Linked DNA regions of Homo sapiens. The gene in region 6 interacts genetically with the main gene of each other region. Each region holds a gene or a part of one and is shown on either strand. Other genes may lie near its edges. The genes, in order: DPM1, EIF2D, RASEF, ATP13A3, DET1, FASN and SBDS.

What was found.
Region 1: changes in FASN (region 6) and DPM1 together harm fitness more than expected from each alone (negative genetic interaction), as found in Homo sapiens cells (one large-scale study listed by BioGRID).
Region 2: changes in FASN (region 6) and EIF2D together harm fitness less than expected from each alone (positive genetic interaction), as found in Homo sapiens cells (one large-scale study listed by BioGRID).
Region 3: changes in FASN (region 6) and RASEF together harm fitness more than expected from each alone (negative genetic interaction), as found in Homo sapiens cells (one large-scale study listed by BioGRID).
Region 4: changes in FASN (region 6) and ATP13A3 together harm fitness more than expected from each alone (negative genetic interaction), as found in Homo sapiens cells (one large-scale study listed by BioGRID).
Region 5: changes in FASN (region 6) and DET1 together harm fitness more than expected from each alone (negative genetic interaction), as found in Homo sapiens cells (one large-scale study listed by BioGRID).
Region 7: changes in FASN (region 6) and SBDS together harm fitness less than expected from each alone (positive genetic interaction), as found in Homo sapiens cells (one large-scale study listed by BioGRID).

The regions. Positions count from the first base shown.
Region 1 is NC_000020.11:50,945,033-50,948,532, forward strand, and holds part of DPM1 (dolichol-phosphate mannosyltransferase subunit 1), read right to left. Parts: intron 892-3,500; coding exon 815-891; intron 731-814; coding exon 705-730; intron 103-704; exon of another isoform or gene 1-102. UniProt on the Homo sapiens protein: Transfers mannose from GDP-mannose to dolichol monophosphate to form dolichol phosphate mannose (Dol-P-Man) which is the mannosyl donor in pathways leading to N-glycosylation, glycosyl phosphatidylinositol membrane anchoring, and O-mannosylation of proteins; catalytic subunit of the dolichol-phosphate mannose (DPM) synthase complex.
Region 2 is NC_000001.11:206,602,466-206,605,965, reverse strand, and holds part of EIF2D (eukaryotic translation initiation factor 2D), read left to right. Parts: intron 1-458; coding exon 459-566; intron 567-2,761; coding exon 2,762-3,015; intron 3,016-3,500. UniProt on the Homo sapiens protein: Translation initiation factor that is able to deliver tRNA to the P-site of the eukaryotic ribosome in a GTP-independent manner.
Region 3 is NC_000009.12:83,000,643-83,004,142, forward strand, and holds part of RASEF (ras and EF-hand domain-containing protein), read right to left. Parts: intron 489-3,500; coding exon 254-488; intron 1-253.
Region 4 is NC_000003.12:194,431,503-194,435,002, forward strand, and holds part of ATP13A3 (polyamine-transporting ATPase 13A3), read right to left. Parts: intron 2,395-3,500; coding exon 2,270-2,394; intron 391-2,269; coding exon 215-390; intron 1-214. UniProt on the Homo sapiens protein: ATP-driven pump involved in endocytosis-dependent polyamine transport. Uses ATP as an energy source to transfer polyamine precursor putrescine from the endosomal compartment to the cytosol.
Region 5 is NC_000015.10:88,540,182-88,543,681, forward strand, and holds part of DET1 (DET1 homolog), read right to left. Parts: intron 1-3,500. UniProt on the Homo sapiens protein: Component of the E3 ubiquitin ligase DCX DET1-COP1 complex, which is required for ubiquitination and subsequent degradation of target proteins. The complex is involved in JUN ubiquitination and degradation.
Region 6 is NC_000017.11:82,077,838-82,081,236, reverse strand, and holds the end of FASN (fatty acid synthase), read left to right. Parts: coding exon 1-73; intron 74-314; coding exon 315-545; intron 546-646; coding exon 647-867; intron 868-998; coding exon 999-1,097; intron 1,098-1,628; coding exon 1,629-1,880; intron 1,881-1,956; coding exon 1,957-2,094; 3' UTR 2,095-2,899; downstream 2,900-3,399. UniProt on the Homo sapiens protein: Fatty acid synthetase is a multifunctional enzyme that catalyzes the de novo biosynthesis of long-chain saturated fatty acids starting from acetyl-CoA and malonyl-CoA in the presence of NADPH.
Region 7 is NC_000007.14:66,992,787-66,997,025, forward strand, and holds the start of SBDS (ribosome maturation protein SBDS), read right to left. Parts: upstream 2,801-4,239; 5' UTR 2,632-2,800; coding exon 2,504-2,631; intron 1,556-2,503; coding exon 1,426-1,555; intron 632-1,425; coding exon 431-631; intron 1-430. Other genes in the region: S-adenosyl-L-methionine-dependent tRNA 4-demethylwyosine synthase TYW1, read left to right, coding at 4,193-4,196. UniProt on the Homo sapiens protein: Required for the assembly of mature ribosomes and ribosome biogenesis.

The DNA.
Region 1 (3,500 bases), on a different chromosome or scaffold from region 6:
GACTTAACCACACTACTTTGTTAACATAATGAATGAATTATAAGTGATTACCAATAATGAGCCATTCTGGCATTCCTGGAATAAACCCTTTTGTTCACGGTGTTTTATTCTAATAACTCAAGGCTTAATTCCATTTATCAGAGAAGCCATCTTCCACCTTTTTCTGTGGTCTGAAAGAATTCAGATAACGAACTACCTGTTGATTTGCTCCTCAGGACTCCTAAAATACATCATTTAGTCTCAAATGTGTGTTGTGTGTGTGTGTGTGTGTGTGTGTGTGTGTGTGTGTGTCTACTATCTATACAGATAAATATTTTAGAGACAAGGTCTCACTCTGTCTCAGGGTCACCAAGACTAGAATGGAGAGGCATGATCATAGCTCACTGCAGCCTTGAAGTCCTGGGCTCATGTCATCCTCCCACCTGAGCCGCCTGAGTAGCTGGGACTACAGGCGCATGCCATTGTGTCTGGCTAATTTTTGTTATTTTTTTTGTAGAGACAAGTACTTGTTTTGTTGCCCAGGCTGGTCTCAAACTGCTGACTTCAAGCAACCCTCCTACCCTGACTTCCCAAACTTTGTTTATATTTTTGATAGAAAAAATAGTATGTGTATTTTTGATTAATAAAAAATGAAAATAAGCCCAAAACCAGTAAGATAAATGTTTCCAGTCATATTTCTTTCAAATATTAGAAATAGTACCTACCTAATAAATTCAGGAATAAATTTTGGCTGAAATTTGAAAAGAATAAACAGTAAGTCAGTAAAACAGGCTAAGACTACCATAAATAGCTAATAAAGAAACATACCACTTACATGGTGTGAGAGATCAGCATCCATAATAATGATGTAGTTTCCTGTGGCATGTTTCATTCCATGAATATATGCAGTTCCTAAAAATGAAAGTAGATCCATTCAAGAAAATCAACAGAAATCTTTACATATACATTTGAACATCAAGGAAATTGTTTAGCACCTGAAGAGCACACATTAGTTCTCTAAAAGTCAGATTAATAAATTGGTATTTTTCACCTTAAGTACATAAGTTCATGTATATTACATATATAATCAAGAAGGTAGCTGGCCACACACCCCCATTCAGATGTCAATTTAATACAATAGATCATACCTCTATTTCAGTATAGCAAAGAAATAGTTTATAAGTTCAAAAGTCTAAGATTATGTAGCACAATTATCACATTCTCATGCTTTAAAAACCCATCTGGTGTTTCCTTGGCATCCCCCTAAGACACTGATGAGCTCCACATTTACAAATCAGCTTCCTACTTAATATCTCCACTTGGGTATTTCAGAAATCTCAAAGATAACATTGCAAAATCATCTTCCAATTCTCTACCTCTCTCTTACAGGCCACCTCTCCAGGAAAGGCACCAACTATCCAACTGCTCCATCCACAGGTCTAGAGATGATTCTTGATTTCCTGCCTTTAACCATAACTTCTAAACTGTAATTAAGTCCTATTGATTCTCCATCCAAAACATTTCAATTCCCTTTTTCTTGTCTTTTACACCGTAAACCTGGTACGCTAGACCCTTGCTCTGGTATTTGGGGCCAAAGGCCTAGGTGACAATTACTCAGCCAGCTCCATGCCTCAAAGTCCCACAGGGACTTGGCAGGCTAGGGTAACTTGTTAGGAGCAGGACTTGGGGATTCCTGCATTCTCTAGTCCAGACCCCTCACAAGTGTCTTATGAGCAAGGCTGAACTCTTCTAACTTATTTTGTTAAGAAGTGAATATCGGCTGGGTGTGGTGGCTCATGCCTGTAATCCCAGCACTTTGGGAGGCTGAGATGGGTGGATCACTGGAGGTCAGGGAGTTTGAGACTAGCCTAACCAACATGGCAAAACCTCATCTCTACTAAAAATACAAAAAATTGGCCAGGCGCAGTGGCTCACGCTTGTAATCCCAGCACTTTGGGAGGCCGAGGCAGGCGGATCATCTGAGGTCGGGAATTCGAGACCAGCCTGACCAACATGGAGAAACCCCGTCTCTACCAAAAATACAAAATTAGCTGGGCATGGTGGTGCATGCCTACAATCCCAGCTACCTGGGAGGCTGAGGCAGGAGAATCGCTTGAACCCGGGAGGCAGAGATCGCGGTGAGCCGAGATCGCGTCATCGCACCCCAGCCTGGGCAAGAAGAGCGAAACTCCGTCTCAAACAAACAAAAATTAGCCGGGCATGGTGGTACACGCCTGTAATCCCAGCTACTCGGGAGGCTGAGGCACAAGAATGGCTCAAACCCAGCAGGCAGGGGTTGCAGTGAGCCGAGATTGTGCCACTGCACTCCAGCCTGGGGATCAGAGTAAGACTGTCTCAGAAAGATAAAGGAGTGAATATTTACACTTTTTGGTTTCATGGCAGTTTCCAGATTTTTTTGAATCCCAAAGAATCTTCTGGGTTCAGATACTGAGAACATTTGATGCTTGGGAATTGATGGTCTTCAAGATAGCAGACTCCAGTTAAGCATTGTGCTTTCTTCATGTTAAGTTTTAGCACAAATAAAGGCAGAGTTTCCTCTCAGAATTACTGAGCTCATATGAGCTTTTCAATAATGCTGTATGTTTAAAAGCTGGAAAAGCTTCCTTTTTTAAAAATAAAGAATAACTGTTTTTATCACTAGGCTGGAGTGCAGTGGTGTGATCTCGGCTCATTGCAACCTCTGCCTCCTGAGTTCAAGCGACTCTCCTGCCTCAGCCTCCCGAGTAGCTGGGATTATAGATGCGCGTCACGACGCCCAGCTAATTTTTGTATTTTTAGTAGGGATGGGGTTTTACCATGTTGGCCAGGATGGTCTCGATCTCTTGACCTCGTGCTCTGCCCACCTCGGCCTCCCAAAGTGCTAAGATTACATTTGTGAGCCACTGTGCCCAGCCTTAAATGAAGAGTAACTTTTTAAACTTGTAACTTAAAGGATGTTCCAAGGTTTGCAGCATGCTGGTCCAAGATATTTGCCCTCAGACCCATTCTCTGGCCCTTCCCTACTCTGTGCTATATTGGGTGAACTACATATTCCAGATTCTCTTGTCAACTGGCTGCCAAACAGCTTTGGGAGGTACAGGTGGAAGACTGCAGGGAGGGGAAAAGGGAAAAGTCTAAGTGGTCCTCCCTCTGTTACTCTCCCTCCTACCTCTGACTGGGAATTTCCCACAGTTCTAGCTCCTGCCAGGCAGCCCCTGCCCCATCATTCTAGCTCCCTCTGGGCAGCCCAGGTTCTTGGGCTCTAACATCTCTTCCTGCCGTTGCTCCATCCCTAGGGGTGGCAGTGACCTCCAGCTGTTACTAATCTTAGTAGCCTCACTGCTCCATTTGGTTTCTCAGGAACTCCTTCAGGGGTGTAACCAGAGACTCAGTATTAAATTCCCTACACTGAAAGACTTACAGTGGTTCTGTTTTCCTGAGTGGGTCTTGACTTATACAGGCGACCCAAGTTATACCATTTAAATGTCATTAAGATCATTAAAAACCATCATAGGAAGTTA
Region 2 (3,500 bases), on a different chromosome or scaffold from region 6:
GTCTCTTCTCTCTTCCCTATGGCATCCCTCAGCCTAATTTATGATATATGAATTGCCTCCCCTTTAAACTTCCTTATGGGATGGCTATGACTTCTTTAAGGTAGAGGAGATAATTTATATTTTTGAAATTAATGAAAGGGAACATTAAATATCCTTCCAAGACCCACCTGGAGATTTAATTCACAGCAGGAATAAAACAAAGGCAGTGATAAAGTCAATAGAGGAGTTACTAATACAGAAGTTTAGTGTTTAGTTTAATATTTGGTCAAGGGATTTTTGAAAGTAATATTTGTACATAATCTGAAGAAAACTGAGAGTGGACTGAGTTTGGTTTTATGATACAAGACCTTCGAATTGGTAACCTTGGTATTTTTACCACATGTGTCAGAAGATGATCCTAACATGTGCCCTTCCCATAGATTTTCCATGACCCTGGTCTCTGGCTTCCTTCTTCTTAGAGCCCCTGTAGCCATTGGAGTTGCAGCCATGTCCACAGCTGAGATGCTCACGTCAGGCCTGAAGGGAAGGGGCTTCTCTGTGCTCCACACTTACCAGGACCACTTGTGGTGGGTACAGAGTTTCTTCTGTTTTACAGAGAACCGGGGCAGCTGGGGAGAGGATGGGGCCTGTGATTCAGGAGTGAGAGTTTTGGTCCTAGCCATGTCTTTAAGCAAGTTGCTAAGCCCAGACTTTTATTTCCTTACAAATATAAAGAAAATATTTTTTTCCCCTGTTTGGACAAGTAATGAGAGAGAACTTTATTTTCTAAGTGAATTATAGAATCTTAGACCCAAAGGAAGACCTTAGGGATCATCTGCTCTGCCTCTCAGTACAGTGATACTCGTTTTTTTATAGCCCTGGTCAATCTGGCCCTAGCTGCGATGCACATTTTAGACATCATGTGACCCCATGATGAGTGCTTCTGAATCCTAATCACTGCAGGGTAGACCTTTAGACTCCAGGATTATAACCTGATTACTTTTATGTTATTCAGATTTCACATTCCAGACTCCTCCTCCTCATGAAAGTAACGCATTCTGACTGTAAAGGTTGCATTCTTGAGACGCGTACCTGTTCATTTTCTGGTTATTTTCTTGTCATTTTAGCAAAACAGTAAGCAGTGATTTTCTCAAAGCACACATTTAGCCAAGTATTGTGGCCTGTTGGTATAGATTCATTCTTATATTTTCCAGCCCAGTCTTGGAATTATTAATTTTTTTTTTTTTTTTTTTTGAGATGGAGTCTCGCTCTGTCGCCCAGGTTGGAGTGCAGTGGCGTGATCTCAGCTCACTGCAAGCTCCACCTCCCGGTTCACTCCATTCTCCTGCCTCAGCCTCCTGAGTAGCTGGGACCACAGGTACCTCCCACCACGCCCGGCTAATTTTTTGTATTTTTAGTAGAGACGGGGTTTCACCATGTTAGCCAGGATGGTCTCGATCCATTGACCTTGTGATCCACCCACCTCGGCCTCCCAAAGTGCTGGGATTACAGGTGTGAGCCACTGCGCCCAGCCTTTTTTTTTGAGATGGAGTTTTGCTCTTGTTGCCCAGGCTGGAGTGCAGTGGCGCAATCTCAGCTCACTGCAACCTCTGCCTCTCGGTTCAAGTGATTCTCCTACCTCAGCCTCCCGAGTAGCTGGGATTACAGGCTTGTGCCCAAAACATCCGGCTAATTTTTTTGTTTTTAGTAGAGACAGGGTTTCACCGTGTTGGCCAGGCTAGTCTCGAACTCCTAACCTCACGTGATCTGCCCATCTAGGCCTCCCAAAGTGCTGAGATTACAGGCGTGAGCCACCGCTCCCCGCCGGACTTACTGATTTTACAAGTACTTGCCAAGTCCTCCTTTGCTGGTACAAGCTCATTTTTGCCTGTTTTTAGATATTTGAGGGCTGATGACTGATGTTCTCCTAGCACCTTGTTGTTTAACTATCAGTCTGGGCAACAGCAATCAAGGTCAGGTTGTCTAAGTTGTTTTAGCAGCAGCTGCTTTGGTTCTCTCGCTGCACCTTGAAAAAAATATTTATGGTATTTACCTGATCAGAATAGCCTAAACATACCCTTTGGCTTTACTGTGAACAACACTGAGAAGCCTTGCCGTAACTATTAGTTAAAACTTAGTTTGATTTGCATAATGTTGGCTAAGATAAAGTTTTTTACTGCTTTGTGTGCTTTGCTATGTGGCATCGCCTGTTTTCCTGTCTTCCTAAGGCTTAGTGGCATAAAACCATGGCAATCTCTGCTTTCCACGTTAGACTGCATTTGATGTAACACAGAAGCCACTGATTTTGCAGTCCTTGAGCAGTCCAGGTGTTTGTGTTTTATTACATATGCTGAGCCGTGGGTTTGCATTTCACCAAACAGATATTACAGATGCATTCGCGATCTTAATGTTCATATTTAATTCAAATTGGTTTTGTTATTAACTCAGATGAAGGGAACATTTTTGGGAGTTTATCTTAAACTCCTTTTTCTTTAATCTTTCTCAGTCTTGGGATGTCTATTAATAGTATTATTCTTTTGGGATAGGGAGGAGACAAGATTTATTCTCCCCATTTCAGAGATGAAGAAACTGAGGCATGGAACTTTTAGGGGCCCAGAATTGAAAGTACGCTTGAGATGAGGGCACAGGCTCTCTGCCCCCTCCTGGCCACTCCTGCCTGTTGGCTCTCTGCTGTCTCTGACCTCACTGCTGACTCCTCTGTGGCCAGGGCTGGAGAGTATTGGAGCTGCTGCTTGATGTTTCTGACATGAGATTTTTCCAGGCGGTCTGGAAACAAGTCCTCTCCACCTTCCATTGCTCCACTGGCCCTGGATTCAGCAGATCTCAGTGAAGAGAAGGGGTCTGTCCAGATGGACTCCACCCTGCAGGGAGACATGAGGCACATGACCCTGGAGGGGGAAGAGGAGAATGGGGAGGTTCACCAGGCACGTGAAGACAAGTCTCTCTCAGAAGCCCCAGAAGACACCAGCACCAGGGGCCTGAACCAAGACTCCACAGATAGCAAAACGCTTCAAGGTATAACTCTAGGAGGAGAAGAGCCCATCTCCCCACCTCTCAATTTAGGAGCCTGACGAACTCCACTCCACTGCTGACTAGAATGGCCCTTAAGCTTCCGGGGGAGGAGGGGAAGGTCCTTATTTTCTGTGAGGGTGGCGCAGCAGCCCTTTCACATCTTGTTTTTGAATCCTTTCCACATAAGTCACGTCTTCCTGGGAGCTAATCTGCCCTGGCATTTGCCTGTCTTCAGCTACAAAGCCCTCCAAGGTTTCTTCTGGCTCAACTTCTCTGGGTGAACACTCCTAGCTTGGTGGGACTTTGTGGCTTGACTCCTTCTCTGGGGTCAACCCTCTTTAAAGGCTCAGTGCTCAAGAGAGGCTGGGAGCTTTGGTACCTGGGAATGGGTTCCTTTCAGAGCCAAGTGGGTGAGGTAGGGATGAAGCTGGGGGTCGTTTTCTTGTACCAGGTGTTCTGTATCCCTCAGGAAGGATGTGGCTCTTGTC
Region 3 (3,500 bases), on a different chromosome or scaffold from region 6:
CATTATGGATTAAAAAGAAGAAAACTATGCAGCTAAATCAACAGTCAATGCTATTAATATTAGGGAATAGAGTGACACTGAATGGCAATCTATGAGAATTTCTCCCTAACTCTGTGGAGGAAAAAGCATTTTACTAACTATGCTTTACATCTATGACCTTTAAAACAGATTTCCATGACAGATAGAAGGCAAATAAGGTGACAGATTTCAATCACGTAGAAGGCCTAGGAGAGCAGTGGTTTCTGGGGCTTACATCTGTGTCTGAAGCATCACCTCCAAAGCTCTCCTGCACCCCGTGTGACCTCTGAAATCCCCTCTGGTGCTTGTATTCCACTTCTGAGTCATACTCATTGGGATCTCTCAAGGTAGACAAGCCGCTGTCGAAGCAGCTTTCAGGCAGGCTGTCAACTTCACAATTTGTCCTCTGCAGAGGATCACAGAGGGCCAGGGAGTCACAGTCCTCATCCACATAGGAAGAGCGGGATGACCTGGTAATAAAGGGGAAGACCAATTTACCTGAGGGCTGGAAATGCTCAAGAACATACAGGCAATAGACCACATGCCATTAGATGGAATCAAGTAGGCCGACTGTGGCTAAGAGCCGCAGTGTTATTTCATGATTAGGCATTAGGGGAAATAAAATGCTCAAAGCACCATCAGTTCATTCTATGCAGCAATCAGTTAAGATAAAGAACCTTACATCAAACACTTAACAAACAAAGCCATTAAAAAAATAATGTTCTTTATTTCCTGATACAAAAAGAATTAGAGTACCTAAGACATAAACACAATCGCAAGTTGTATTCATAAAAATGTATGCAGAATATATGAGCTTTTTTACTCTAAGGTGGTCAGACCATATTCTGAACATTGTGTCCATTTCTGGATAACATCTCTACTTAAAAGGGCTGCTGAGAGCCCAAACAGAAAAGGCAACCACAATGTCAGACTCAAGACCCTCAGAGCTGAAAAATAAGATTCAGTGTACTCAACTTAACTCTTAATGGTTTCTCTCTTCAAATACTTGAAGAGCTGATACATGAAGAAGACCACATCCTCTCAGGTTGCACAAGACAAAATAAGATAAGCTTTTCTGGGTGTCATATTTCTAATCAACATGGCAAAAAATGATAGGCAATTAGAAACATCTGATAAAAATAAGCAATTAGAAACATGACTGGAATGTATGATTTGACACGTAAGTTTTCTGCCACTAAATGTTGACACACCGTCTGGAAACACCCCTCTGGGAGACGTTTCATAGGGAGGGAGGTGCCTCAGATAAAGGCTGGAACTCCTGACTTCTATAGATCTTACCATTAGTGAAACTCTGAAGATTTTATAAGTGAGGGAGAAATTCACATCAAATAAGAGAATCATAAGAAACTGTATACATTCCTGTTTACTTTAGCTTTTCCATTTGATTTCCATAAGAATCTAAGTTTACCAATTATGGTTATGACTTATTTACCACCCACTACACCCTGGGCACCACCCTACCAATTTGCTTACACGAATCATTGGAAAGGGAGAATGGGCACGATACATAGGTCTTCAGATATGAGAAACAAGAAGTGGATATGCTTAGATGAGAGAAGGTAAGCTTAATATAATTAAGTGTGAGCCATGTAAATCTGAGAAGTCAAAAGTATTTTTATGCCATTAGCAAATGTTTAAAATTAATTAAAAAGATGATGTAACTAACTTTCTCTCTCTCAATACTGCTCAATTACAAAGTCTTTATTCTGAGCCAAGAATTTTATATCATAACTCAATCTATATAGCTAGCTACGTGTGTGCATGTGTGCGTGTGTGTGTTAATATACTGTTAATAACAATAACAATAAAATATATTGTTAATATATTTTAATATTTATTTATTGTTAATATATACTATTAATAACAATAACAATGAAAATATATTGCCAATATATTATTGCATTATTTATAAAACTCTCCTTCTGAAACTGATTTTAGGTCCATCTATAAAGCACATAAGAAAACCATTCTAATTATAATATACTACAAACTACTTCAGTTCCATGTCTTCATTACTGGTTATGATTTATTTTAAGCCTACTTGTATTTTGACAAGGAGCAAAGAAAACATCAAGTTCTGAATTAAGAATTCACCTGAATAAACATCTAGACTCTAAATTGAAAATATAGGCACACTCAGCATTATGCAATATACTCATGTAACAAATCTGTGCATGTACCCCCTGAATCTTAAATAAAAGTTGAAAATTTTTAAAAGTAAAAATAAAAACATAGGTACAGGTCAAACTTTCTCAAACTCAATTGAACTGCATATCCTTTTCAAAGTCAACCATCTTGCCAACACTCAATAATTTCATTATAATTAACTATGTAAAAGTACAAAACAAATTAAATCTTTGTTAGAGTTCTTGCGAAGAACAAAGCCAAAATAAATTTTAAAGTTAAAACCAAATAAAGCTATAAAAACAATACAATTTTATTGTACATCTAATCTGATGTACAACATGCTTTTATTACATTTTTATATTAGCATCAAAAAGAAAATAAAATGTTATCTTCTTATGTCAAAATAATCACCCCCCCACACACACCCAGAAGGGGCATGGTGTTGAGGCTACGGTGGCCTCTCATTACAGCTCAAGGAGGTAGGCACATGAGTGCTACGTCACTCAAACATGCTGGGGACGTGATGACTTTGTCCCCTAGAATCTTTCGTTGATGAGCTCTACTCCAGTTCTTATGAGGCTTTCATGGTGTCTAATCTTTCCAAAATGAATCATGGTGAAATTTCTGAAATACTTTTCAGTTGTATACCTTTCCCCCCAATTTGCTTAGAATCAGTTTTAAATATTAGTCAAAAATGACATCACACCTACACATTTTTAAAAATCGATTATTTCTCAATAACAGAATAGTCAGCCATCTATAAATCAAGCCATTAAATTTTTTTATTGAGCTAATCAGTGAACAGTAGAAACCACTTAAACCTGATACAATTTTCTTAGAAATGATCACCAATAAGCCTTCGTAACAGGTCTTCCTAAATGGCAACCTGACCATTTCTAACACCAGGATGTTAAGTACATTATTCTTTTTATCAAAAGTACCCAAATGAAAAGGGGATGAACGTGAATCTGAAAGTCACAAAGAAATAGAGAGTCGGAAACTTTTTGTTTATGCTTTCACTTCTAATTTCAAATTTTTGACATATTACTAAATTAACTAGCAACACTGGACATATGTGTATAAACATACACATACACTCATGTAATCTCTAAGTGATTACTAGGTCTCAAGTAATAAAAGGCCTAATATTTCAGTTCATTTGATTAAACACAAGGCTAAATTCTAACTTTTGGCAAGCCTCTGTGACTCCTTCAATACAGTAGCTATTTTACAAGGATCTACTAGTGATATTTATATTTGCTTTGAGAGTTTCCCTTTTCTGCAACATAGCTCATATAATATTATGCTGAGCTATTAAATATTTACAGATCATG
Region 4 (3,500 bases), on a different chromosome or scaffold from region 6:
TATGCTTCTCATCTTAGCTAAATATCAAAATTTGAACATTGAGATTCCTGGGTCTGTCCCAGTCCTAATGAAACATAATCTCTGAAAAAATAGCCCTGACTTCTGTTTTCATTTAGTTTTTGCTTTACTGTGTTTTAATGCACCACTTTTTTTATTTTTTCAGACTAAATTTAAATCAACAAACTTTAAAACGGACAGTCGATCTTGACCTTACCTCTGGGTCAATTGCTGATGGATGACTGCACTGCGTGAGGGAGTCTGCATAATGCCAATTTATTTTGGCAACTTTCCCATCCTTTGGAGGTAATGCTTCAGCAATAATCACTTTATCCTGAGGTAGAATCATTCCACAATCTCTGGCCACAGAGACAGCAGTCAACATACTGTCACCTAATTTTCAAAATATTTTAAATGTATTGAAATTAAAATGGAAACGTGAACGTATCAAACATGTACTTGCTGAGAATCTACTACAGTCTCCATGACTGGGCTGGCAGAGTAACGATAATGTATGGTTCTTCCACTTACAGTTTAAAAATAACAAAATTGGAGCATACTTATCAAAAGAAGCCTCAAATAACGCAAGCACGTTATATGCTAAAGAAAACATCTCACCCACAATTTTTAAAGCCAAATATAATTCTCAATCTTTTCCAGTCATGCACTATTTGTATCTACACAATACCTGGCACGGTGCTACACACAGATCAGGTGGCTCAATAAATACTTACCGAAATAACTTTACAAAGTGACTAGTGGTCTGTGCAAGAACACCAGCACCATATCATAGAAAATGATGAATTACAAAAGCAAGATCATACAAAACAAAAAGGTAAGACAGGTAATAAGAACAGGTGTAAACGAGAAACAAGAGAGACAACTTCTCAGTCATGAGAAGAAAGAAGAGCAGCAAGAACAGGATCTTATTAAGGAGAAGCAGACAAAGGTTTGTGGATCCCACTGCTACCAAAACAGAAGAGCGAGATATTTCTTTCCTCAATTTCCACACACTATTTCCAAGAATATCTTCCTATGACCTTTGGTACACAAAGCCATATTCTGGCAAGGGGAAAATAAATAAATAAATAAAAGAGGAGGACGAGGAACAGGTGAAAAGTGTCTTGACAAAGAAGACGCAAGAACTAAGAATGGCTGGAATGCTAACAGACTTAGTTACCTTGAGTTATACGGTAAAATTATGTTATTAGATAGATCTCAAGAGTCTAAAACACAAAAATGTATACAGACTTTCTCCATATTAGTCTTACTGAACACGTAAGTGCCATTAAGTATCTTAAATCTGATTATCTGCTAAGAAAAAAAAACAAAAAACAGAGCTACCACAATTTCACACAGCTAATGAGTAAGAGTTATCTAATATTATCAACAGTATAGTAACATCAGGAGAATCCCTTAGATGTACTAGAAAAAAAAAAGTAGGCTATTTCACTAGAATTCAAGCTAGGGTAATAAACAATATCTTACATATAAACATTTCATGCTATCGAATATCTATTAATCATTTTCTATGTAGCTGACAGTTCTAAAAGTTGCAAAGGACCCCAACATGAGTAAAATATACTCCTAACCCTCAAGAATCTTATATTCTAGTACAGAAAACAAATCTACAAATAACACAAGGTACAATAAGTGCTATAAGAAATATACGAATAAAGAGAGAAAACAAAAAGGAGTCAAGTTTAAATTTTTACAGTGTACTTTTACTATTCTTTTTTTTTTTTTTTTTTTTTTGAGACGGAGTCTCGCTCTGTCGCCCAGGCCGGACTGCGGACTGCAGTGGCGCAATCTCGGCTCACTGCAAGCTCCGCTTCCCGGGTTCACGCCATTCTCCTGCCTCAGCCTCCCGAGTAGCTGGGACTACAGGCACCCGCCACCGCTCCCGGCTAATTTTTTGTATTTTTAGTAGAGACGGGGTTTCACCTTGTTAGCCAGGATGGTCTCAATCTCCTGACCTCATGATCCACCCGCCTCGGCCTCCCAAAGTGCTGGGATTACAGGCGTGAGCCACCGCGCCCGGCCGTACTTTTACTATTCTACTACACTTTCTATAAATAGGATTCGCTAGACCTCAAAAAGAATATGACAAAGTTATCTTGCGCTTGGGAAAATATTCAGAGCTAAAAGAGAACTTAGGTTGAAACCACTATAGACTATATAATATGATTTTATAACTGATTATCCCTCAATATAATATAACTTCAGCTCTGTCACACTCCATTTGCTTCTGTGTTCTTTTATAAAGTCTAACCTGTGACCATGACGGTGCGAATGTTGGCTTTATGCAAATCTTCAAGTACTGCAGGGGTTTCTTGCTTTAATTTGTTCTGCATTATAATTAATCCCATAAAATCCATGTTGTTCTCAATTGCATCTCTGCAGAAAAAGAAGTTTTAACACATAATGGTTTAGTCAATTGAGTAAGCAACTTATGTACACAAACTTGAAATATCTAAACAATTAAAAATGTCTATAAGTTATAATGCAGTTTAAAATATCTATAAATGAAAACATTTTATATGCTGAATAAACCACGTGTGTGTTCAAGAGTTCAGTATCTCAATATAATAATCATTTGGAAATGTATGTCACTGTACACTAAACAATTCTAATACTAAGGAATATTCATTTTGTGTAGTATCCAAAAATAAGCATAAATCTATTCTTTACTGCCCTCTACAACATATCCTAATTTAAATGTTAAGTGAAAAAGAAAAAACTGTGCCACAAGCACATTCAATACAGTTTTCGTGGATTCATTATCAAGTCTCAGATCAATTCTATAAAACAATTACTGATCCTGAAAATGTGACACAAGAACCATTAGCAATCCAACAATGAGATCTACTTGGGACCCAGAGATGGGTCTTTGAAAATATTACTAATATAGTTATCAAGATGCTATTCTTTAAATAACTGAGTATCAAGAATGCAGCAGGCACTATGCTAGTCACTGGGAGGTTAAAGACAAAAAGGGATGATCTCTGCTCTCAAGACACTTGGGTGGGGAAACAGACATGCAACCAAAGAGATGCACACAAAAATAGTACGTGCTTTAGCACTATAAAAGAGATGAAGTCTGTTCAGTGATAGTTACGTTCTTAAGAAATCTCAGGTCAGGCATTGTAGCTCATGCCTGTAATCCCACCACTTTGGGAGGCTGAAATAGGAGGATTGCTTGAACCTAGGAGTTTGAGGCCAGCCTGGGCAGCATAGTGAGACCCCGTCTCTACAAAAAATGAAAAAACAATTAGCTGGGCATGATGACATGTGCCTGCAGTCCCACTACTTGGAAGGCTTGAGGAGTGAGGATCATTTAAGGCCCAGGTGGTCAAGTCTGCAGTGAGAAGTGTTTGTTCCACTGCACTCTAGCCTAAGCAACAAAGAGAGATCCTATCTCAAAAGAAACAAACAAAAAAAGAAAACAAACAAAAAACACCTCAACCTACCTGAATTATATCATAGAAATTTTTTTCTCAATG
Region 5 (3,500 bases), on a different chromosome or scaffold from region 6:
TTTGAGTCATGGAGACACCAAAGGTATTTAGGGTACAGATCTAGAAGAAGAGGGAGAACGCCTAGATCCAACTGACCCAGGAGACCTCAGGCTGGCCTCTAGTCCCCCTCCCTCAATCTTAAAGCTACAGCAATGTGGCAAGTGGTATTAGCTGTTGTGATTTTTCTGTTCTTTCTGGTTATGTTAATTCTGTTTTTCTGATACTCCAGCCCCCCAGGGAGTGAGTTTCTCTGTCCATGTTGGATCTGATACCTCTGCTCAAATTCTGTTAAATTGCCTTCTAAAAAAAAAAAAAAATGGGAAACACTTCCTCCCAGCCTTGCAAGTGTTGGAGCCCCCTCCAATGTATGCTGGAAAATTTTTCTCTTGGTGTGGGGAAAAGCAAGAGAGATCAGATTGTTACTGTGTCTGTGTAGAAAGAAGTAGACATAGGAGACTCCATTTTGTTATGTACTAAGAAAAATTCTTCTGCCTTGAGATTCTGTTAATCTATGACCTTAGCCCCAACCCCGTGCTCTCTGAAACATGTGCTGTGTCAACTCAGAGTTGAATGGATTAAGGGCGGTGCAAGATGTGCTTTGTTAAACAGATGCTTGAGGGCAGCATGCTCCTTAAGAGTCATCACCACTCCCTAATCTCAAGTACCCAGGGACACAAAAACTGTGGAAGGCCGCAGGGACCTCTGCCTAGGAAAGCCAGGTATTGTCCAAGGTTTCTCCCCATGTGATAGTCTGAAATATGGCCTCGTGGGAAGGGAAAGACCTGACCGTCCCCCAGCCCGACACCCATAAAGGGTCTGTGCTGAGGAGGATTAGTAAAAGGGGAAGGAATGCCTCTTGCAGTTGAGACAAGAGGAAGGCATCTGTCTCCTGCCTGTCCCTGGGCAATGGAATGTCTCGGTATAAAACCCGATTGTATGCTCCATCTACTGAGATAGGGAAAAACCGCCTTAGGGCTGGAGGTGGGACCTGCGGGCAGCAATACTGCTTTGTAAAGCATTGAGATGTTTATGTGTATGCATATCTAAAAGCACAGCACTTAATCCTTTACATTGTCTATGATGCAAAGACCTTTGTTCACGTGTTTGTCTGCTGACCCTCTCCGCACAATTGTCTTGTGACCCTGACACATCCTCCTCTTTGAGAAACACCCACAGATGATCAATAAATACTAAGGGAACTCAGAGGCTGGCGGGATCCTCCATATGCTGAACGCTGGTTCCCCGGGTCCCCTTATTTCTTTCTCTATACTTTGTCTCTGTGTCTTTTTCTTTTCCAAATCTCTCGTCCCACCTTACGAGAAACACCCACAGGTGTGTAGGGGCAACCCACCCCTACATCTTGGTTTTTCAGAGAATTACGGAGTCTGCCTTTAAAAAGGCAAGCTCCGGACACTCTGTGAAGTAGAATGGCCAAGGTTTGGAGTTGGGTGGCCCTCTAAAGGATCATTGAATCCTACAATTGTTCAAGCCGTGTGGCGGGTTGTTACTGGAACTCCTGGCCACCCTGATCAGTTTCCCTATATCAATCAATGGTTAAGTTTGATTAGAAATCCTCCTCCATGGCTCCGTTCATGTGCCATTCACAATTCCACCTCCAAAGTCCTCCTGAACCAGGCCGTGTTTTCACCTCGACCCTCAGCCAGTTCGGCTCCCCCTGTTTTGCCTCCCTCTGAAGAAGGGAGGACATGTCTCTTCGAGGAGACGTCCCCTGTGGGCTCACCGCCCAATTGCCTCCCGGCTGTGACCGCGCTGGGAGGAAGCAGCCCCTCTACTACCACTGAGAGAGGCACAAGTTCCTCCAGGTGATGAGCGCTCAGCCCCCTTCCTGTTTTATGTCCCTTTTTCTACTTCTGACTTGTATAACTGGAAAACCCATAATCCTCCCTTCTCTGAAAAGCCTCAGGCTTTGACCTCACTGATGGAGTCCATGCTCCAGACCCATCGACCCACCTAGGATGACAGCCAACAGCTCCTTTTAACTCTCTTTACCTCTGAGGAGAGGGAGCGCATCTGAAGAGAGGCCAGAAAACACTTCCTTGCATTAACCGGTAGGCCTGAGGAGGAAGCTAGAGACCTCCTGGAGGAGGTCATTCCCTCCACCCGGCCTAATTGGGACCCAAATTCCTCAGGTGGAAGGAGAGCCTTGGACGATTTTCACTGGTATCTCCTCACGGATATTAAAGGAGCCACTCAGAAGCCCATAAACTTGTCTAAGACAACTGAAGTTGTCCAGGGGCCTGATGAGTCACCAGGAGCGTTTTTAGAATGTCTCCAGGAGGCTTATCGCATTTATACTCCTTTTGACCCGGTGGCTCCCGAAAATAGCCACGCTCTTAATTTGGCATTTGAGGCTCAGGCAGCCCTGGACATTAAGAGAAAGCTCCAGAAACTGAAAGGATTTACTGGGATAAATAACAGTCAGCTTTTAGAAATAGCCCAGAAGGTTTTTGACAATCGAGAGTATGAAAACAGAAACAAGCAACACAGGCAGCTGAAAAGGCCGCTGATAAAGCCTATAAAAGACAAGCAAAAATCTTACTAATGGCTATCCAAGAGGGCAGAAAGGAAAGGCCCCCATTCCAGAAAAAATGGCCAAGGAACCTTGGGTTCCCACCAGAAAAGTAAAAGAGGTGAACAGGCCTCTCTAGGAAAAGACCAATGTGCCTATTGCAAGCAGACTAGGCACTGGAAAAAGGAATGCCCACTACTGCCACAAGAAAAGTCAGAAAACAAAAAGTTCTCACCCTGCCTGCAACAGAAGAGCCTGAATGACAGGGCCGTGAGATACTGTCATCTCTGGATATTGGGGTTTGCGGAGATTGCAAAGCCCTTGTATACTGCTATAAGAGGTAATGGCCCATTGATTTGGACAGACACCGAAGAACAGGCTTTTCAAAATCTGAAAAAGACTTTAACTGAAGCCCCTGCTTTAGGCCTCCCAGATACCTCAAAGCCTTTTCATCTGTTTGTCCATGAGAGCCAGGGAATTGCTAAGGGGGTGCTTACTCAGACTTTAAGACCTTGGAGACACCCAATGGCTTATTTATCTAAGAGGCTGGATCCTGTGGCCTCTGGATGGCCAAGTAGCAGCTAGAGCAAGCCTAGTCCAAGAAACTGATAAGTTAATTCTGGGCCAGGATTTAACCCTTACAGCTCCTCATGCTGTAGAGACTTTACTACAAAGTGCTTCAGGTAAATGGATGTCAGATGCTTGCATTTTACAATATCAGAGTTGTTGAATCAGCCTCGTTTGACTTTCTCTCCCACATGGTGTTTAAATCCAGCTACTATCCAAGACTGTAAGGAACTGTTAGAAACTACCGAAACTGGCCGACCTGATCTTCAAGATGTGGCCCTAGAGAAGGCGGACGCCGCTGTGTTCACAGATGGTAGCAGCTTTCTCAAGCAGCGAGTATGAAAGGCCGGTGCAGCTGTTACCACGGAGACAGATGTGTTGTGGGCTCAGGCTTTACCAGCAAACACCTCAGTGCAAAAAGCT
Region 6 (3,399 bases):
TCCGTGCGCGAGGTGCGGCAACTCACGCTCCGGAAACTGCAGGAGCTGTCCTCAAAGGCGGATGAGGCCAGCGGTGCGTGTGGGTGGCCAGGCGGGAGTGGGGTCCCCGGGCCTCCCCAGCCCTTCCTCCTTGTTGTCTGGACCGTGTCCCGGCAGGCATACCGCCCTTCGTCACGGGTGCCATTCTGAGCGTTCCCACCCCGACTCCCACCTGACGTAGCACCGTGGGGACCTGCGTGCGTGTCTGTGTGTCCTTGCGTGGGTGCCAGGGCTCTGCACCCAGACCAGCCTGGCATCTGCCCCTGTCTTCACAGAGCTGGCATGCCCCACGCCCAAGGAGGATGGTCTGGCCCAGCAGCAGACTCAGCTGAACCTGCGCTCCCTGCTGGTGAACCCGGAGGGCCCCACCCTGATGCGGCTCAACTCCGTGCAGAGCTCGGAGCGGCCCCTGTTCCTGGTGCACCCAATCGAGGGCTCCACCACCGTGTTCCACAGCCTGGCCTCCCGGCTCAGCATCCCCACCTATGGCCTGCAGTGCACCCGAGGTACTCCCGGGCCCTCCTCTGGAAGCGGTGGTCAGTGCTGGCCATCACGGGGCCCGTGGCTGCCGCCTGCACATGCTGAGTGCCCGGCACTGCCATTGCAGCTGCGCCCCTTGACAGCATCCACAGCCTGGCTGCCTACTACATCGACTGCATCAGGCAGGTGCAGCCCGAGGGCCCCTACCGCGTGGCCGGCTACTCCTACGGGGCCTGCGTGGCCTTTGAAATGTGCTCCCAGCTGCAGGCCCAGCAGAGCCCAGCCCCCACCCACAACAGCCTCTTCCTGTTCGACGGCTCGCCCACCTACGTACTGGCCTACACCCAGGTGAGAGCCAGGCTGGTCCTAGAGGCCTACGGCAAACGTCTGGGCTCCCCACCTGTGCCCTGGCTTTGGGGGACCGTCGCTTAGGAGGCCCCGCCCCTTCCATCTGCTCAGCAGTCCCTCCTTCCTCTCAGAGCTACCGGGCAAAGCTGACCCCAGGCTGTGAGGCTGAGGCTGAGACGGAGGCCATATGCTTCTTCGTGCAGCAGTTCACGGACATGGAGCACAACAGGGTGGGTCCTGGACACCCCTGAGGCCGCAGGACCCAGAGTACTGGGCAGGAACGGAAGGGGGAAGGGAAGGATGGGATGGGACGCGAAGAGCGTTAAAGGCCCCCCAACTTCACCCCTTTAATAGCCGATCCCGGCCGGATGCGGTTGCTCATGCCTGTAATCCCGGCACTTTGGGAGGCTAAGGCGGGCAGATTACCTGAGGTCGGGAGTTCGAGACCAGCCTGACCAACGTGGAGAAACCCCTTCTCTACTAAAAATACAAAAATTAGCCAGGCATGGTGGCACTCACCTATAGTCCCACCTACTCGGGAGGAGAATCGCTTGAACCGGGTAGGTGGAGGTTGCGGAGGGAGGAGAATCGCTTGAACCGGGTAGGTGGAGGTTGCGGTGAGCTGAGATCGCCCCACTCCATCTAGCCTGGGTAACAAAAATGAAACTCGTCTCAAAAAAAAAAAGCCCACCCGCAGTGTAGCACAGGGCAGGCCGGTGCTGTGGGTGCTGCCAGCACCTGCTCAGAGCCCGACCCCACAGGTGCTGGAGGCGCTGCTGCCGCTGAAGGGCCTAGAGGAGCGTGTGGCAGCCGCCGTGGACCTGATCATCAAGAGCCACCAGGGCCTGGACCGCCAGGAGCTGAGCTTTGCGGCCCGGTCCTTCTACTACAAGCTGCGTGCCGCTGAGCAGTACACACCCAAGGCCAAGTACCATGGCAACGTGATGCTACTGCGCGCCAAGACGGGTGGCGCCTACGGCGAGGACCTGGGCGCGGACTACAACCTCTCCCAGGTGCGCAAGGGGCCTGACGGGAACGGGGACAGGGACAGGAGTGGGGTGGGACGGCAGCTGATCGCATCCCCTGCAGGTATGCGACGGGAAAGTATCCGTCCACGTCATCGAGGGTGACCACCGCACGCTGCTGGAGGGCAGCGGCCTGGAGTCCATCATCAGCATCATCCACAGCTCCCTGGCTGAGCCACGCGTGAGCGTGCGGGAGGGCTAGGCCCGTGCCCCCGCCTGCCACCGGAGGTCACTCCACCATCCCCACCCCACCCCACCCCACCCCCGCCATGCAACGGGATTGAAGGGTCCTGCCGGTGGGACCCTGTCCGGCCCAGTGCCACTGCCCCCCGAGGCTGCTAGATGTAGGTGTTAGGCATGTCCCACCCACCCGCCGCCTCCCACGGCACCTCGGGGACACCAGAGCTGCCGACTTGGAGACTCCTGGTCTGTGAAGAGCCGGTGGTGCCCGTGCCCGCAGGAACTGGGCTGGGCCTCGTGCGCCCGTGGGGTCTGCGCTTGGTCTTTCTGTGCTTGGATTTGCATATTTATTGCATTGCTGGTAGAGACCCCCAGGCCTGTCCACCCTGCCAAGACTCCTCAGGCAGCGTGTGGGTCCCGCACTCTGCCCCCATTTCCCCGATGTCCCCTGCGGGCGCGGGCAGCCACCCAAGCCTGCTGGCTGCGGCCCCCTCTCGGCCAGGCATTGGCTCAGCCCGCTGAGTGGGGGGTCGTGGGCCAGTCCCCGAGGAGCTGGGCCCCTGCACAGGCACACAGGGCCCGGCCACACCCAGCGGCCCCCCGCACAGCCACCCGTGGGGTGCTGCCCTTATGCCCGGCGCCGGGCACCAACTCCATGTTTGGTGTTTGTCTGTGTTTGTTTTTCAAGAAATGATTCAAATTGCTGCTTGGATTTTGAAATTTACTGTAACTGTCAGTGTACACGTCTGGACCCCGTTTCATTTTTACACCAATTTGGTAAAAATGCTGCTCTCAGCCTCCCACAATTAAACCGCATGTGATCTCCACCACCGTCCTTTCTTCCCTCCTCCCTGACCTGGCAGCTGCAAGCTCTCCAGCTCCACCCCACCCAGTCACGGGGCCGTGAAGGGGATGCCCTCTGTCCTCTGGTCCCCAGTTCCCACACACCCCTAGGCCATGTCCCAGAGCCGGGGCTGGGCCGGGGAGTGAGGAAGGAGCCCGCGTGGCAGCCCCGGGCTTCCCGGGAAAGCGCTGGGACTGGCGGGGGGGGGGGTACCGAGGCTCTGGCCAAGAAACACCACCAGTGAGAAACGTGTAGGAGGTACAGACACTGGGAAGTTGGCTTCAGCTGAGGAGAGGCCCCTCGTGGAGAATAGTATTTGCTTGAAGTCAGTGGATTGCAGGCATTCGCCCTGCCAAAGATGCCGTCACAGCCTCACCAAGACGGTGTCAATAGCGCCACTGGCTGGCCAGGTTGACCCAGAAGACTTGGGTTTAGGCAAAGGAGTGGAGGCTGGGAGGGAGCAAGGGACAGGGAGCCCTGGGC
Region 7 (4,239 bases), on a different chromosome or scaffold from region 6:
CACCTAGGGTCAGGAGTTCAAGACCAGCCTGGCCAACATGGTGAAACCTCAACTCTACTAAAAATACAAAATTAGCTGAGTGTGGTGGCACGTGCCTATAATCCCAGCTACTCAGGAGGCTGAGGCAGGAGACTTGCTTGAACGCGGGAGGTGGAGATTGTAGTGAGCCGAGATCATACTACTGCACTCCAGCCTGGGCAATAGAGTAAGACTCTGTCTCAAAAAAAAAAAAAAAAAATTTAGAGATGGGGCGTCCCTATGTTTCCCAGGCTGTTTCCAGGCCTCAAGCAATCCTCCCATCTTGGCTCCCAAAGTGCTAGGATTACAGGCATGAACCATTGTGCCTGGCCCCAGACCCATTATTTTAATGATTTCTTCAGAGAAAACTGATTTCCATGGCTATATTTTGATGACATGAGAAACCACTCACCTGCTGTTTTGTACTCTTGTTGGTTTTCACCGAATAGTGGATGTCCTTCATGGCTCTCTCAATAAGGATCACGGTGTATGGTCTCTTTGTTTCAGGATTCACACATTTGTCTGCCACAATAGTTGCAATGTCCCTAAACATCTGCTCCAGTTGTGTGTGTCTTTCTTTATCTGATACTTGAACTTCTCCTTTAGTCAAAATCTAAAAAAATGCCAACACATTTAAGAAATCACTATCTTTCTCTATCACACACTATTTATTAACTAACCATAAAAAATGAGTAACTGGATGGAGAGAAAATTAAATTTCATCCTCTCCAGCTATCAATATGTAAGTAATGGTTTGAGCTTTGCCCAAAAGATGCAAGAATCTTTTGGCTGGGCTCAGTGGCTCACATCTGTAATCCCAGCACTTTGGGTGGCTAAGGCGGGCATATCACCCAAGGTCAGGAGTTTGAGACCAACCTGGCCAACATGGTGAAACCCCATCTCTACTAAAAATCCAAAAATTAGCCAGGCAGGGTGGTGGGCACCTGTAATCCCAGCTACCCTGGAAGCTGAGGCAAGAGAATCGCTTGAATCCAGGAGGCAGAGGTTGCAGTGAGCTGAGTGCAGTGAAGTGCACTGCACTCCAGCCTGGGCAACAGAGCAAGACTCTGTCCCCCCACCCAAAAAAAAAAGGATCTGAAAGATGAAATACTTGAAAACAAATTCAGTTTTCAGGTATACCACATTCTATAAATGGGGCAATTTATAGAAAAATGAGGTAATTTAGTAGAAAATCTGATTTCAGGAGGTTTTGGCAAAAAAAAAAAAAAAAAAACCACAAAAAACAAACAAAACCACCAAGTTCTTTATTATTAGAAGTGACACTGTGCAGTTCACATTATTGCTTGGTTAGTCTTTCCTCCAGAAAAACAGCCTTTAATGTTTAATATATCTACAAATACGTTATAAATGGTTATTAGGGTTAGCTATGCTGCAGCTGTTACCCACCTGCTTACAGATTTCAGTTTGGTCATCTGTTCCAAACGCACTGATGAGATCTTCCTTTTTGGCAACCTGACCTTTAGAAACATTTACAAACACTGAGTGGGTCTGCAGAACTTCATCGAGGTCTTTTTCCCTTGTGAGGGCAGGAGAGAAAGTCCTATGTGAATATACTTGAAACTTGGACATGCATTTACATTTAAATACGAGATGGCAACAACATGAACGGCAAGACACAACAAATCCCCCTGATGACCTTTAGTGTAGAGGGCAGTTTTCTTTTTCTTACCCCCCAACCCCCGCCCCTAGATGGAATTTCACTGTTTTTGCCCAGGCTGGAGTGCAATGGCGCGATCTCGGGTCACTGTAACCTCAGCCTCCCGGGTTCAAGTGATTCTCCCGCCTCAGCCTCCTGAGTAACTGGGATTACAGGCATGCGCCACCACACCCGGCTAACTTTGTATTTTTAGTAGAGATGGGGTTTCATGTTGGCCAGGCTGGCCTCGAACTCCTGGCCTCAAGTGAACTGCCCGCATCGGCCTGAGGGAACATTTTCAAAACTCAGAACCGTATTTGCCTTACCATTTGCTCACTGGAGAAAAATGTCATGGGAGGACGTAAGAAACACAAGGGTGGGGTGGGGTGCAGACAGCTGCTGCCACGGAATGCCAGTCCCTAGATGGCAGCAGTGAAGACACTACGCACTTTAAACTGCTAGGGCTACTGAGATCTATGACACCAGATGTACCCACAACTATGACAGTATTCGTAAGACTAGGTTCTCAGCCATCATTATTCTAGGAAAAGGACCACAATTACGAGATTTCTTGGCTGCAGCTTTTATGACACCAACAAAACAAAACCCCAAACCAACAACCCAATCCGAACCAACCAAATAAAGAAGAAACCCTTGGCTTAGGCGCCAAGCTCGGACAGCGACGTCTCATGCTCACAGCAGGAATGTTCCATTTCCTCCCCGGCCAACACCCCAGCCTGGCCCATTCACTCGACTTGGGCAGAGACAGGCCGCCTCGGAGGTGACGGCTCAGGCCCAGGCCCAGGCCCGAGGGAGGGGGCTACTCACACGCCGCTCCGCCAGCCGACGACCTTGTTTTTGTAGCAGGCGATTTCGAAGCGCTTCCCGGCACGCTTCATCCGTACCACGGCCACATTGGTTAGGCGGATCTGGTTGGTGGGGGTGAAGATCGACATCGCGGCTGTTCAAAGACCCAGAAGCCGGCGAACCAGGGCTGACCCGCGCCGTCCAGCCTGAAGGCCACCAGCGCCTCGCGGTAACGACCGATCGGCGCGCGGCACTGACCCAACCACCAGTGCGCGGCGCCGCGACTCACTAGCTTCAGGCAGCCGTCACAGTGTGTCTGGCAGGCTTACTTACTGCGCAGGCGTCAGGTGGAGCAGAAGCCGGGAGGGGAAAAGTGAGCGATGACGCCTGCGTATTGTGGCTTTTTACGCCATCTTTCCACGCCCAAAAAGGGAGGTGCTTTTCCTTGGCGTATTTACTTTCGCCAATGAGCTGAGAGCTCTGACAGGATGCTCGCGGATGTTTAGTGACCGGGTTAAAACACAGCGTTGGCACCACCTCGTTCCGCGGAATTCAAGGGCCAGACCCACTTTATAATATAAATATTTTTTATAATAGAATTATTTTATAATAAATATTTTTATTTACTCACCCTTTTATAATAGAAATATTTTAACATAAAATGTAGACAAAAAAGTGTAATGAACCTTCTATGTACCCATCACCCCGCTATCAACATTTTGCCATCCTTGTTTTATTCTTTTTTCATTTTTTTGTTGCTTTTTTATTTACAGTTTTTTTTTTAAGTCAGTCTCACTCTGTCACCCAGGCTGGAGTGCAGTGGCAGGGTCATGGCCCCACTGCAGCTTCGACCTCCTGGGTTCGAGCGATCTTCCAGCGTTAGCTTCCCAAGTAGCTGGGACTACAGGTGTGAGCGGCCACGCCAAGCTAATTTAATTAAATAAATAATTAAAAAAAATTTTTTGTACAGACGAGGTCTCACTATGTTGCTCAGGCTGGTCTCGAACTCCTGGGCTCAAGCGATCCTCCCGCTTCGGCTTCCCAAGTGCTGGGATTACAGGTTTGAGTCACAGCGCCCGGCCGGTTGGGGGTATTTTAAAGAAACCATCATATGGTTTCAGCATTAAATACTTCAGCCTATAGCCCTTAACAGATACACGCGACGAGATTAACTACAATTCCTTAATATCATCTAATAGCGAGTCCATCCTCGGGTTTCCCAAAAATAATGCCTTTCTACAGTCGGTTTATTTCAGTTAAGATCCAAACAGGCCCACATAGCATTTCCCCCGCTCCCCGCTCCTTTCCTCTTTTAATTTTCCCATGCCAATCATTTCTCTCTGGGCCCGCCTTTTCCCAGTCTGAGCCAATCCAAATGGAGGCGGAAGCGCTCCGCCTTCATCGCCTGGAACTCTGGGAGGTGCTTATTTCTGGGCACGCCCCCTTTCCCCTCTGAGCCAATCGGAGCAGGGCCGAGAGCGCACCGGGCACTGGCTTCCTTTCCCGGAGCTCTGGGCTTTCCTCTGGGCCCACCTCTTCGTCCTCTGAACCAATCAGGACCGGCCTGGCAGTGTCATGGCTGCCCACAGGTCTGCAGGCACTCGGTACGCCGCTAACGCGGCGAGGTAGCTCGGTGCGTCTCGCGGTACCAGTGCGAATCATCGGGCTATCCAGGTCCGAGATCCTAGTCTCCTGTCGGCTCTGAGGAGGATGGGTAAGGGCACTCGGCGGGCAAGGACCCTGGGGCGGCAGGGGAG